Linked DNA regions of Homo sapiens: region 2 is linked to region 1. The links come from fine-mapping of genetic effects on gene expression. Tissue or cell type: whole blood. Region 1 holds a variant in brackets; the other region holds the start of a gene. All regions are shown on one strand. Distances are between the middles of the regions.

Region 1 (6,844 bases):
ATGAGGTCTTGCTATGTTGCTCAGGTTGGTCTCAAACTCCTGGCCTCAAGCAGTCCTCCCACTTCAGCCTCCCAAAGTGTTGGGATTACAGGTGTGAGCCGCTGCACCTGGCCTATATATTTTTTAAAACCCTGGTTTTAAGCCCCATCTTTGCAGCTTACCAGCGGTTTGACTTTGGGTAAACCACTTTATTTTTTTGAGATGGAGTCTCACTCTGTCGCCTAGGCCTGGAGTGCAGTGGCACGATCTCAGCTCACTGCAACCTCCACCTCCCAGGTTCAAGCAATTTTCCTGCCTCACCCTCCTGAGTAGCTGAAACCGCTTTACTTTCTGAGGCTCTTTACTGATTTGTAAAACACTTAAATAAGAATGCCTATTGTCTGGCTGGGCGCGGTGGCTCACGCTTATAATCCCAGCACTTTGGGAGGCTGAGGTAGGCGGATCATCTGAGGTCGGGTGTTCGAGACCAGCCTGACCAACATGGAGAACTCCTGTCTCTACTAAAAATACAAAATTAGCTGGGCGTTGTGGCGCATGCCTGTAATCTCAGCTGCTCGGGAGGCTGAGGCAGAAGAATTGCTTGAACCCGGGAGGCAGAGGTTGCAGTGAGCTGAGATCACACCATTGCACTCCAGCCTGGGCAACAAGAGCAAAATTCCATCTCAAAAAAAAAAAAAAAATGCCTATTGTCCCCTTGGAGCTATTGTGAGGGTTACATGAGGTGACACACGTGAAAATCCTCTATACATTCAAATGTGATCTACAAATATTAAGTATTTGATGTTTTCCTGGATGCCACAACGGAGACCATGAGGTTATGATCTGAACTGGCTCACCTCCCTCTATGCATACCTGGATGAAGAGGTTCCGGTAAACACGGGTGATATTGATGCTATGGGGCTGGCCATCGGTCACTGGTCGAGTGGTTAGCTGGTACACGTAGGGACTGGTGCCCAGCTGATATCGCAGCTGAAGGGTCCCTGTGGGGTGGGGAGAAGAAATTTGGGGTCTCAGGCCCCATGACTCCTATCTTCTAACAGCACGTGGGTCCTTGTATTTGTGAATCAATAGGAGAATTAGGGGCACCGGGGTGAAGCTGGAGTGGGGTGAGAGAGCCCGGGAGAGCTTACCATCATCCTTGATGAGCACAGCCATGTAGTCACGAACAAAGGAACTGACGTAGAGCAGGACAGCAGGGGCGGAGCTGGTGCTGAAGCTGAAGGAGACCTCCTCTCCCGTAACGTTGTAGACAGGCCCACGGTAACCGGGCACAGGCCGACCAGGCCGGGGGTAGTCGGGCAGGCGGTACCCGGGGCCATGGTAGCCAGGCACATAGCCCGGAGTATCATAGCCCGGGATGTAGCCAGGCTCATAGCCTGGCACTGGCCGGCTCAGCATGTGGGAGAACTCCCTGGCTGCAGAGCGCAGCGCTGACTGTAGGTTATAGCGCATCCAGGTGCCCGGCTCAAAGAAACCACCAATATCTGCAGGTAGAAGCAGGGAGGTTAGGGCCCCCACACTGCTCACTCCCCAATTCAGAGGTTTTATGTCATCCATACACACATCCTGAGACTTACTTCAGTTTCTGCCACCCTCACAACCCTCCATTTACTTTTAGGTCCCCTTGAGCCCCTCTGTCACAGAACAGAATCTTACAGCCATGGGAAACTGGAGATCATCTGATCCAACCCCTGCATTTTACAAATGGGGAAACAGGCTCAGAGATGAGTAGTGACTTGCTTAAAGACACGCAGTAAGGCCAGGCACAGTGGCTCACACCTGTAATCCCAGCACTTTGGGAGGCCAAGGCAGGCAGATCATCTTGAGGTCAGGAGTTCGAGAACAGCCTGGCCAACATGGCAAAACCCCATCTCTACTAAAAATACAAAACTTAGCTAGGTGTGGTAGTGCATGCCTGTAATCCCAGCTACTATAGGAAAGCCAAGGCAGGAGAATTGCTTGAGCCCAGGGGGCAGAGGTTGCAGTGAGCCAAGATCATGCCACTGCACTCCAGCCTGGGTGATGGGGATATCCTGACCCCATGTAGTATATGTGCCACTACTCACACTTCCAAACCACCACCAGAAATCTGTTGGTCCCTAAGTCTTGTATCTCCCTAGTCCCCCACACTCCTCCCACCAGTAACCCACCTGCTCATATATCCTCCCTATAGGCCAGCCTTAGGGAGGATGCAGTCTTGGCATGTGTGTAGGATCTTGCTATGGGGAATGTCAAGGCTCACCTTAACCAAGAACTGGGTCATTGACATGTTTTAGGAATGCAGCAATCATCAAATACATTGACAAGGGAGTTCGCCTGTGTTACCATGGTGATGGTGGGAAGATGGAGAAGCGATTTGCTTTTTTTTTTTTTGTAGACACAGTCCTTGCTGTGCCCCCCAGGCTGGAGTGCAGTGGCACGATCATAGCTCACTGCAGCCTTGACCTCCTAGGTGCAAGTGATCCTCCCACCTCAGCCTCCCGAGTAGCTAGGCCTAAGTGTGCACCACCATGCCCAGCTAATTAAAAAATTTTGCCAGGCGCTGTGGCTCACGTCTGTAATCCCAGCACTTTGGGAGGCCAAGGTGGGTGGATCACCTGCGGTCAGAAGTTCGTGACCAGCCTGGCAAGCGTGGTGAAACCCCATCTCTACTAAAAATACAAAAATTAGCCGGGTGTGGTGGCACACACTTGTAATCCCAGCTACTTGGAAGGCTGAGGCAGGAGAATCGCTTCAGCCCGGGAGGTGGAGGTTGCAGTGAGCCGAGATCGAGTCATTACACTCCAGCCTGGGCAACAAGAGTGAAACTCAGTCTCAAAAAAAAAAAAGAAAAAAGAAATTATTTTGGCCAGACGCGGTGGCTCACGCCTGTAATCCCAGCACTTTGGGAG[T/G]CTGAGGCAGGCAGATCACAAGGTCAAGAGTTCGAGACCAGCCTGGCCAATGTGGTGAAACCCCATCTCCACTAAAAATACAAAAATTAGCCAGGCATGGTGGTGCACATCTGTAGTCCTAGCTACTCGGGAGGCTGAGGCAAAAGAATCGCTTGAACCAGGCGGAGGTTGCAGTGAGCCGAGATCGTGCCACTGTACTCTAGCCTGGGTGACAGAGCGAGATTCCATCTCATAAAAAAAAAAAGAATTTTTTTTGTAGAGACAGGGTCTTGCCATGTTGCCCAGGCTGGTCTCGAACTCCTAGCCTCAAGCAATCCTCCCACCTTGGGCTCCCAAAGCATACTTGGTGATTTTGAGATATTTTTGCACCAGCTATCTGTACCATCCCTTCCTTGTCCATGCCTTTGGAGTCACCCATGATCTTCAACTGCCTAACTCCCCAAACTCAGAGCTCAGGAATCCAGGGACAACTCTAATTTTCCATGATATGGGCTTTACATGCTATTTCCTTCCCTGCCCTCCCTACATCCCATTACACCCTATGGCTCCCTGTTGCCCCATAACCAGCAGCACTTACCGTGGTTGCAGTATGGCCCATCAAAAGCCGTGAGGTCACAGTCACACGTGTAGTAGCTATAGCGCTCCACGCAGCGGCCTCCATGGAAACAGGGGAGCCGAGGGTGGGCACAGTGGCCTGTGCAGTTGGGTGAGGTACCCTCAGAGGCATTGGCACGGCCCTCCAGGTTCAGAGTCACTCCGTTCAGACGCATGGCCCTCAAGCAACCCACAAAGGGGCGTCTCTTAAGCTCTGCAGATCCTGGGAAGGGTAGGCAACAGGTCAAGAAATGGAGGCAGGGCCAGGCGCGGTGGCTCACGCCTGTAATCCCAGCACTTTGGGAGGCCGAGGCGGGCGAATCACGAGCTCAGGAGATCGAGACCATCCTGGCTAACATGATGAAACCCCGTCTCTACTAAAAAATACAAAAAAAATTAGCTGGGCACGGTGGCGGGCGCCTGTAGTCCCAGCTACTCGGGAGGCTGAGGCAGGAGAACTGCTTGAACCCAGGAGGCGGAGCTTGCAGTGGGCCGAGATCGTGCCACTGCACTCCAGCCTGGGTGACAGAGCGAGACTCCGTCTCAAAAAAAAAAAAAAAAGAAAAGAAATGGAGGCAGAGCCAGAGACAGGATGAAGTATTGTAGTTGGAAAGGGAGCCAAGAGGGCTGGAAGAATAGAATAGGATACAAAGGCCTGGAGGGACAAGTGAGACACTGGCTTGCTCTGAAGCAGAGGGGACTGGCACCTAAGACAGGAGGCTCCTGGAAACAAGGCGAGTGGCCTTGGAGGATGGGGAGGTAAAGGAGGCTTCAGACTTGCCTCTGGGTTGCTGCTTACCCACATAGAGGGGCTGGTCATACTCCATCCAGATGTAGGTCTGCAGTGGCATAGGCCGCAGAACCCAGGGCCGGTGATCCACTCGGAGCCGGGCCTGCTTCACGTTGATTTCAGCCCGGACCAGGTGCCACTCGTCATCATTGAACTCAAAGTCGTCTGAGTGTACTGTGAGGTTCTCATCCCCATTCCCCACATCAAAGGCGAAGACCACATCCCGGGATGCTGGACAGTGTGATGCAGGGTAGGGGAGAAAAGGACTCAGACCTACAAGACCCTTCATAGATCCTTGCCCAATATAACCTCTTTCCCTCACCTCTTTGGAGCTTCTTGAATATCCCTCCAATTTGTCTGTAGCTTGCATTGAAACTTACCAGCTGCTTAAAAACCTCATACCCTTTGTCTCTCCCCACATCACAGATCCCTGAAGCCAGCTTCCCAGCCTCACTTCCCAGGCTAGAAGCATGGCTAATCAGCGGTGAGAGGGACTCGAAGGTCCAGCTTCCTTATGGCACAAGGAAGGGGCTTAAGGCCAAGAGAGGCCAAGTGAATGCCTAGGGTCACCCAGCCAGCCGTCAAGACCGAGTGAGGGCTAGAACATAGGGTATCTCAACCCTTCCCATGCTGCCTGTCAAAAGGGCATCTGCCCTTGGCTCCAACCCCAGCCTACCCCTGTCTCCCCAGACAGCACTTTCATCTACCCCGAGGCCCTCCCACAGTCTGCCTGCTCACTGTTGAGTTCCACCCGCACATAAGGTCGGCGCCACTGGCAGTAAGGGCCCCCCATATTCTCTAGGAAGACCCCCGAGGGAGCAGAGGTCCTGAAGTAGAAGGAGACATCCAGGCTGTGGTTGGCACGGATTGGGGGGAAGCGTAGTGCAGCCCCGGTGTGGAAGGAAATGGTGTTCCAGGAATTTCCTAGAAAAGCAGATGGAGGAAGGTCTTGTCAGGGAGATTGGAGGGTGGAGGAGGAAGAGAACCTGGGGTTGGGGGCAGGGAAGGTTGGGCAAAGGGGGAGGGTTTGAGGTGACGGAGGGGAGACTAAGGAGTGGAATGAAAGAGGAGCCAGGTGCAGAGGGGTAATGAGATCGCATCACAGCAGGAGCTGGGGGTCGGGCACCCCAGCTAGAGACCACCAGTGACATGCGGCCTAGATTTTGGAAACTGGAGAGTCAGCTCTGGGAGGGCACACAAAAGGGGACTGCCACTCACGATCGCCATAGCAGCGCAGAGGCCTCAGGAAGAACTGGGCCTCAGAAGTGGAGCGGTTCGTATCCCCTATCACTACCTGAGTGACAGGCAGATGGTCCACAAAGGTCAGCAGTCCCTTGTCAGTTCTCCTGTGGGGGCAGGATGTCATGGCTCAGCCCCAGCCACTCAGCTCCTCCCACTCCCGGAGTCCTAAAAACCCTGTCCCTTTGCCCCCTCACCACTGGGGCTGGTCAGCGTCACAGTTGCAGTACAAGGCAGGGTCCACACAGCTCCGGTCCAGACCACAGGCACAGCGCTGGATCCCAGGCTGGGAGCCTCCCCAGTAGAAGTGCTGCTCCTCATTTCGGCCAATCCAAAAGCTGTAGGGGTAGCCTCCTGGGGAAGAGGTGCAGGCAGCTTCCAGGCCCTGTCCCTCCATTAGCCTCTGGGCTCCTCTCGCCCTTCCAGCGAGTTCAGACCCCTCCTTGAATCTTCCAACCCAAGGCCCCAGCTGGCTCTCTGGCTTCCTTCTCCCAGGCCCCCATTGGTGTCTCCTCCAGTTCCGCCACCTCCCTGACCCCAGCCCTAACCTGCAGTGTTGAGCAGCCGGGAATTGTAGCAGGAGAACTCGATCCACTGTTCACAATGCTGGGAAGCATTGGCAAGGGCACTGACTTCCTCCCAGGATGCATTCCAGTACTGGATAGCCCCCAGGAATGGCCGCTCCATGCTGGAACCTGTCACTCGAGTTGTCCACAGCCTGTCATGCCGCACAACTGTCCACGCTCGGTTCTCTGGCAGACAAGAGGGGACAGAGCTTTGGCTGGAGTTGGGCATTCTCTACCCATCTCCCTGCCCACCTCCACCACCGCTGCTGCAACTCAGAGCCACTGAACGTGGCCAGCAGCTCCATTCCACCTCTGCCCTGGGCACTCTGCATTGTAGGCTGGAAATAAGATAGCTGGAATGGGTAAGGAAGCTGGGATATACTTTTTTTTTTTTTTTTTTTGAGATGAAGTCTCGCTCTGTTGCCCAGGCTGGAGTCCAATGGCGCTATCTCAGCTCACTGCAACCTCCACCTCCCAGGTTCAAGTGATTCTCCTGCCTCAACCTCCCGAGTAGCTTCCCAAAGTGCTGGGATTACAGGTGTGAGCCACCACGCCTGGCTTGGGATTTACTTTTAAGGCTAGGTTACAAATTCCTCAGTATGCCCTTCCCCTCTGTCCTCCTTTACCCTCACTTGTTTAGTCTAACTGGCCCCCACCCACCACTCTATCCTTCCTGGTTCTCCCCTCACCCCCTCACCACCCAACAGAGACACTTACCTCGGATATCACAGTACACTACAAATGGCTTCAGGGGGCCACTGCCA
Region 2 (5,000 bases), 51 kb before region 1:
GGGAACAGAAAGGAATGCCAGTATAAAGGAATATTTTCCTTGATTTGGTAGTTAAATGGATAGGGGCAAGGGAAAAACAGCAAAGTTTTTATATAAGGAAAAGAACACTAAATCTGGTTGGAATCCAGCGACCTGAGTTTAAGACCTGACAGAATTATTCATCTGTGTAAGGCAAGTCTTCTAACTCCTTTAGGCCAGAATAACCTGATGTGTAAACTGAAGTTGCCCTACGTACTTCATACAGTTGTTATGAAGATTACTTGAAAAAATGAACATTATAAGCTTTTCTAATTATACACTTTGAGACAAAATCAAAATCAAGATGTTATTATTTTGCATTTTAATTTGTAATTTTAAAAATTTATATTTTGAAATAATTTCAGATTTAATAGAGTTGCAAATATGGTAGAGTTCCTATATGTCCATCAAACTTCCTCAATTACAATGATTAAAACCAGGAATAAGATTGATAAAATACTATTAATTAATCTAGAGATTTTATTCTAATTTCATCAAATTATCCCACTGGTGTTCTTTTTCTGGACCAGGATTCAAGCCAGGATCACACATTACATTTAGTTGTCATATCTCCTCAGTCTCCCAATCTGAGATGGTTTCTCACCCCTTGTCTTTCATGATCTTGACACTTGAAGATACTGGCCAGTTATTTTGTAGATTGTCTCTCATTTTGGATTTGTCTGATGTTTCCTCATAATTAAATTCAGCTTATGCAGGCTGGGCATTGTGGCTCATGCCTGTAATCCCAGCACTGGGAGGCAGAGGTGGGGGGATCACCTGAGTCAGCAGTTCGAGACCAGCCTGGACAACATGGTGAAACCCCATCTCTACTAAAATTACAAAATTTGCCGGGTATAGTAGTGCATGCCTGTAAACCCAGCTACTTGGGAGGCTGAGGCAGGAGAATCGCTTGAACCCAGGAGGCAGAGATTGCAGTGAGCCGAGATTGCACCATTGCACTCCAGCCTAGGCAACAAGAGTGAAACTGTCTCAAAACAAACAAACAAACAACACGCACAAAAAATCAGCTTATGCGTGTTCGTCAAGAATACCACAGAAGTGATTTTGTGCGCTTCTCATTGCATCATGTTCAGAGGGACCTGGTAAGAATACCTCTCAGCTGGGGGCAATGGCTCATGCCTGTAATCCCAACACTTTGGGAAATCAAGGTGGGAGGATGGCTTGAACCCTGGAGTTCAAGACCAGCCTAGGCAACACAGCAAGACCCTGTCTCCTTAAAAAGAAGAGGGAGGCCGGGCGTGGTGGCTCATGCCGGTAATCTCAGCACTTTGGGAGGCCGAGGTAGGCAGATCACTTGAGGTCAGGAGTTTGACAGCAGCCTGGCCAATACGGTGAAACCCCATCTCTACTAAAAATACAAAAATTAGCCGGGCGTGGTGGCACGAACCTGTATTCCTGGCTACTTGGGAGGCTGAGGCGGGAGAATTGCTTGAGCCCGGGAGGGAGAGGTTGCAGTGAGCCGAGATCGCGCCACGGCACTCCAGCCTGTGTAAGTAACAAAGCGAGACTCCGTCCAGCCTCGCCCCCCGGCAAAAAAAGAAGAAGAAAACAATACCTCTTATCACTAGTGATGCTAACTTTGATCACTTAGTTAAGGTGGTGTCTGACAGATTCTTATCTGTAAAGTTGCTATTTTTTTCCCTTTGTAACTAGCAGGTGTCTTGTGGGGATTTATTTCGATACAAGGCTATAATTTTGATTCTAAGTGACTAGAAAACTATGAACAGAAATAGGGAGATCAGACATAAATAAAGGGCTTAGAACCCATAGACCGGTGTCTGGAGAACTGGTAGGGGTGAAGCATCGGTATGAAGGTGATCTGGGTTGGCTTCAAACGCTGAAGTGAGATGTGGCTTGTCACCAGCGCGTGGGGATGGCAAATCCGCTGAATAGGGTCTTCAGGAAGATATTAGTGGCTCTGCGAAGGTTTCCCCAGAGCCCTTCCCCTCCCCTGCCAGCGCCGCTTTGGAAGCCGTCTGGGAGGCTGCACCCGCCAGGACTCCTGAGTGCGGGGTTTTGGCGGCAAATGACAGTAGTGCGTCCGCGCGGCACGGGTAAGTCAATGCGCACGCGCCGACAGGAGGCGCGGGGCGGGGCACGGCGCAGGGGTGGGGCCGCGGCGCGCATGCGTCCTAGCAGCGGGACCCGCGGCTCGGGATGGAGGGTGAGTGAGTAAACAAGCCTGGGCCGGGCGGTGGGGCCGGGCCTCCTCCCCTCGCCGCCCTGGGCCTGAGGGAGGGAGAGGCGGAGGGATCAGGAAATTGGAAGGAATCCGAGGGACACACTGCCTGCCTGGCCGGGGGTAGCAGGCGCCCCTCCTCATTCCGAGGGTGGGGGAATGGGGGCGACGGGGCGAGAGAGACCCAGGCGAGGACAGCGTCTGGGGCTGCGAGGGCTGTGTGCCCGGGAGGAGGAGCGGCGGGGGCGGGCTCGGGGACGGGGAATCCCGTTGGATGGCGGTGTGGGCCGGTGGGCGGGAGCCCCAGCGCCCAAAGGGCGCGGGAGGGCGGTGGCACCTGCGGGGGCCTTTAGCGAGGTGGACTCTGGGGACCTGGAGCTGTGCTTGGGGAGGGCTAGAGACCGGGGCTGATCTTGCGATGGCTTTCGGGGATGTTGAGGAGGGGTAGCAGTAAAAACAAGGCCGGGACTAGGGTGAGGTGAGTAAGGCTCCCAAGGCACAAAGTGTAAAGGAGCACTGACTCAGGGTCGCGCAAGTGCAGTGAGCGCCTCCTCACGTGCGTCCTGGGTGCCTCGGTCGCCTCACCCCAGGCCTGGCCCTGAGCAAGAATCTCCTTCACTCCAGACTTTTGGTCTCACGCCAATGATCGCTCACCCCCACCATTCAACCGAGGATCAAATGATATAAATAAAAGTGCCTTGAAGCACAGACAAGGTGTTGTATTTGGGACATGCCTGTTAGGAAATGTGGGACAAACTTTTATTTCAATAAAAAGTGACTACTGAGGAATTGTTTCTTGAGCAGGGAAGGGAAGGGATACCTGAAGGATGTTAGTGCCCCCCGTGGAATGTGAAGGAATATGGAGGGTGAAATACAGGGTTGTATGTGATGTAGCCCAGGCCGATAGGAACCTGACGCTTGGCAGGGGAGGATGAAAGCAAAGGAGCTCAGGTACACTAACAATTAGGTGGGTGCAAGGATGGCAATGAAAACGCGAGTCTCCTCCACGTTTGCTGCCATACTGCCGCTGAATAAAAAAATTCCCACACCCCATGTTTTTTAAATTTAGGAAACTGATATTGAAGGAGGTTTCCAGCCTGAGAAGGTGCTAACCCTATTAGAGGTTTCTGTGAAAGCTTGTCTATTTTAAGTCTTGGAATCCCCAGATATGCCACTGATAAAAGAGATTACTTACATAGGAGAGAGTGTGTGTTAGGAGATAAGTACTTTAGACTGGGCTCGGTGGCTCATATCTGAAATCCCAGCATTCGGGAGGCCCAGGCAGGAGAATAGCTTGAGCCCAGGAGTTTGGGACCAGCTCAGGCAACAATAGCGAGACCTCATCTCTACAAAAAAAAAATAGCCAGATGTGGTGGCCTTCTCCTATAGTCCCAGCTGCTTGGGAGGCTGAAGCAGGAGTATTGCTTGAGACTGGGAGGTCAAGGTTGCAATGAGCTCTGATCCTGCCACTGCACTCCAGTCTGGGTGACAGCACCTGAGACCCTGTCTCAAGAAAAAAAAAAAAAGCCTGGCACGGTGGCTCATGCCTGTAATCCCAACACTTTGGGAGGCTGAGGTGGACCGTTCACTCGAGCCCAGGAGTTTGAGACCAGCCTGGGCAACATGGGACAACTCCATCTCTACTAAAAATACAAAAATTAATCAGGTGTGGTGGCACACGCCTGTAGTCCCAGCTACTCGGGAGGGCTGAGGCATTAGAATCGCTTGAACCGGGAGGTGGAGGTTGCAGTGAGCCGAGATTGCACCACTGCACATCAACCTGGGCAACAGAGTGAGATTCTGTCAAAAAAAAAAAAAAAAAAAGGAGGCCTGGCACAGTGGCTCAGGCCTGTAATCCCAGCACTTTGGGAGGCCAAGGCAGGCGGATCACTTGAGGTCAAGAGTCCGAGAGCTGCCTGGGCAACATGGCGAAACTCCTTCTCTACAAAAATACAAGAATTAGCTGGGCGTGGTGGTGGGTGCCTGTAATCCCAGCTATTCAGGGGGTTGAGGCACGAGAATCGCTTGAACCTGGGAGGTGGAAGTTGCAGTGAGCCGACATGCACCACTGCATTGCAGCATGGGTGACAGAGCAAGACTCCATCTCAAAAAAGAAAAAAAAAAGGGAGAGAGAAGTACTTAAAAACGCACATACATAATAGGAGAAAGGACTATCTATAAAACTGTAATAATGCTATCATTGTCAAGGTTTATGCTTATTGTTGTGTGTCACAAACATAATGAATCAACTCCAAAGGCAGGGATATATGTTTTATTCATTGATGTACCCCAAACACCTAAAATGGTAACACATAGTAGATACTACTATTAAGTATAATAGTAGGTGCTCAACATATATTTGTGGAATAAATAGTGGGGAAATTTCTGGCACTGGGAGTCAGGTGATCCGGATGCTAGTATTGTCAGTAACTGGCAGAGTACTTGTATGCTAATCGTGGAACTTGATGCTAAGGCCCAGCTTAAAATTCCTTAAAGTGTAAATGACTTCTTCATTATGATGGTTACATTAGTGCCCTTTGAAACAGCACTAGAGGCTGGGCTGATGGCTTACACCTATAAGCCCAGCACTTTGGGAGGCTGAGGCTGTTGGATCACCTGAGGTCGGGGAGTTCAAAACCAGCCTGGCCAATATGGTGAAACCCCATCTCTACTAAAAATACAAAAAATTAGCCAGACGTGGTGGCGGACACCTATAATTCTAGCTCTTGGGAGACAGAGGTGGGAGAATCGCTTGAACTTGGGAGTGGGAAGTTGCAGTGAG

The links. PIP is the estimated chance that this variant, and not a neighbour inherited with it, causes the effect.
Region 2: it holds the start of EZH1, and the variant in region 1 is fine-mapped to the expression of EZH1 in whole blood (TOPMed, PIP above 0.99).

What each region holds. Positions count from the first base shown.
Region 1 is chr17:42,690,161-42,697,004 of GRCh38, reverse strand. CNTNAP1 (contactin associated protein 1) reads right to left here. Exons shown (of 24, transcript NM_003632.3): 12 at 6,798-6,844; 13 at 6,063-6,266; 14 at 5,712-5,868; 15 at 5,494-5,621; 16 at 5,014-5,199; 17 at 4,285-4,506; 18 at 3,469-3,708; 19 at 1,131-1,484; 20 at 853-980. Among named protein-coding and RNA genes, the nearest start is that of CNTNAP1, 11 kb to the right of the region's middle. RefSeq lists an enhancer at 5,605-6,104. The variant T/G (reference allele first, on the strand shown) is at 2,892.
Region 2 is chr17:42,742,214-42,747,213 of GRCh38, reverse strand. EZH1 (enhancer of zeste 1 polycomb repressive complex 2 subunit) reads left to right here and starts at 2,174. Exons shown (of 21, transcript NM_001991.5): 1 at 2,174-2,203. RefSeq lists a silencer at 2,017-2,596.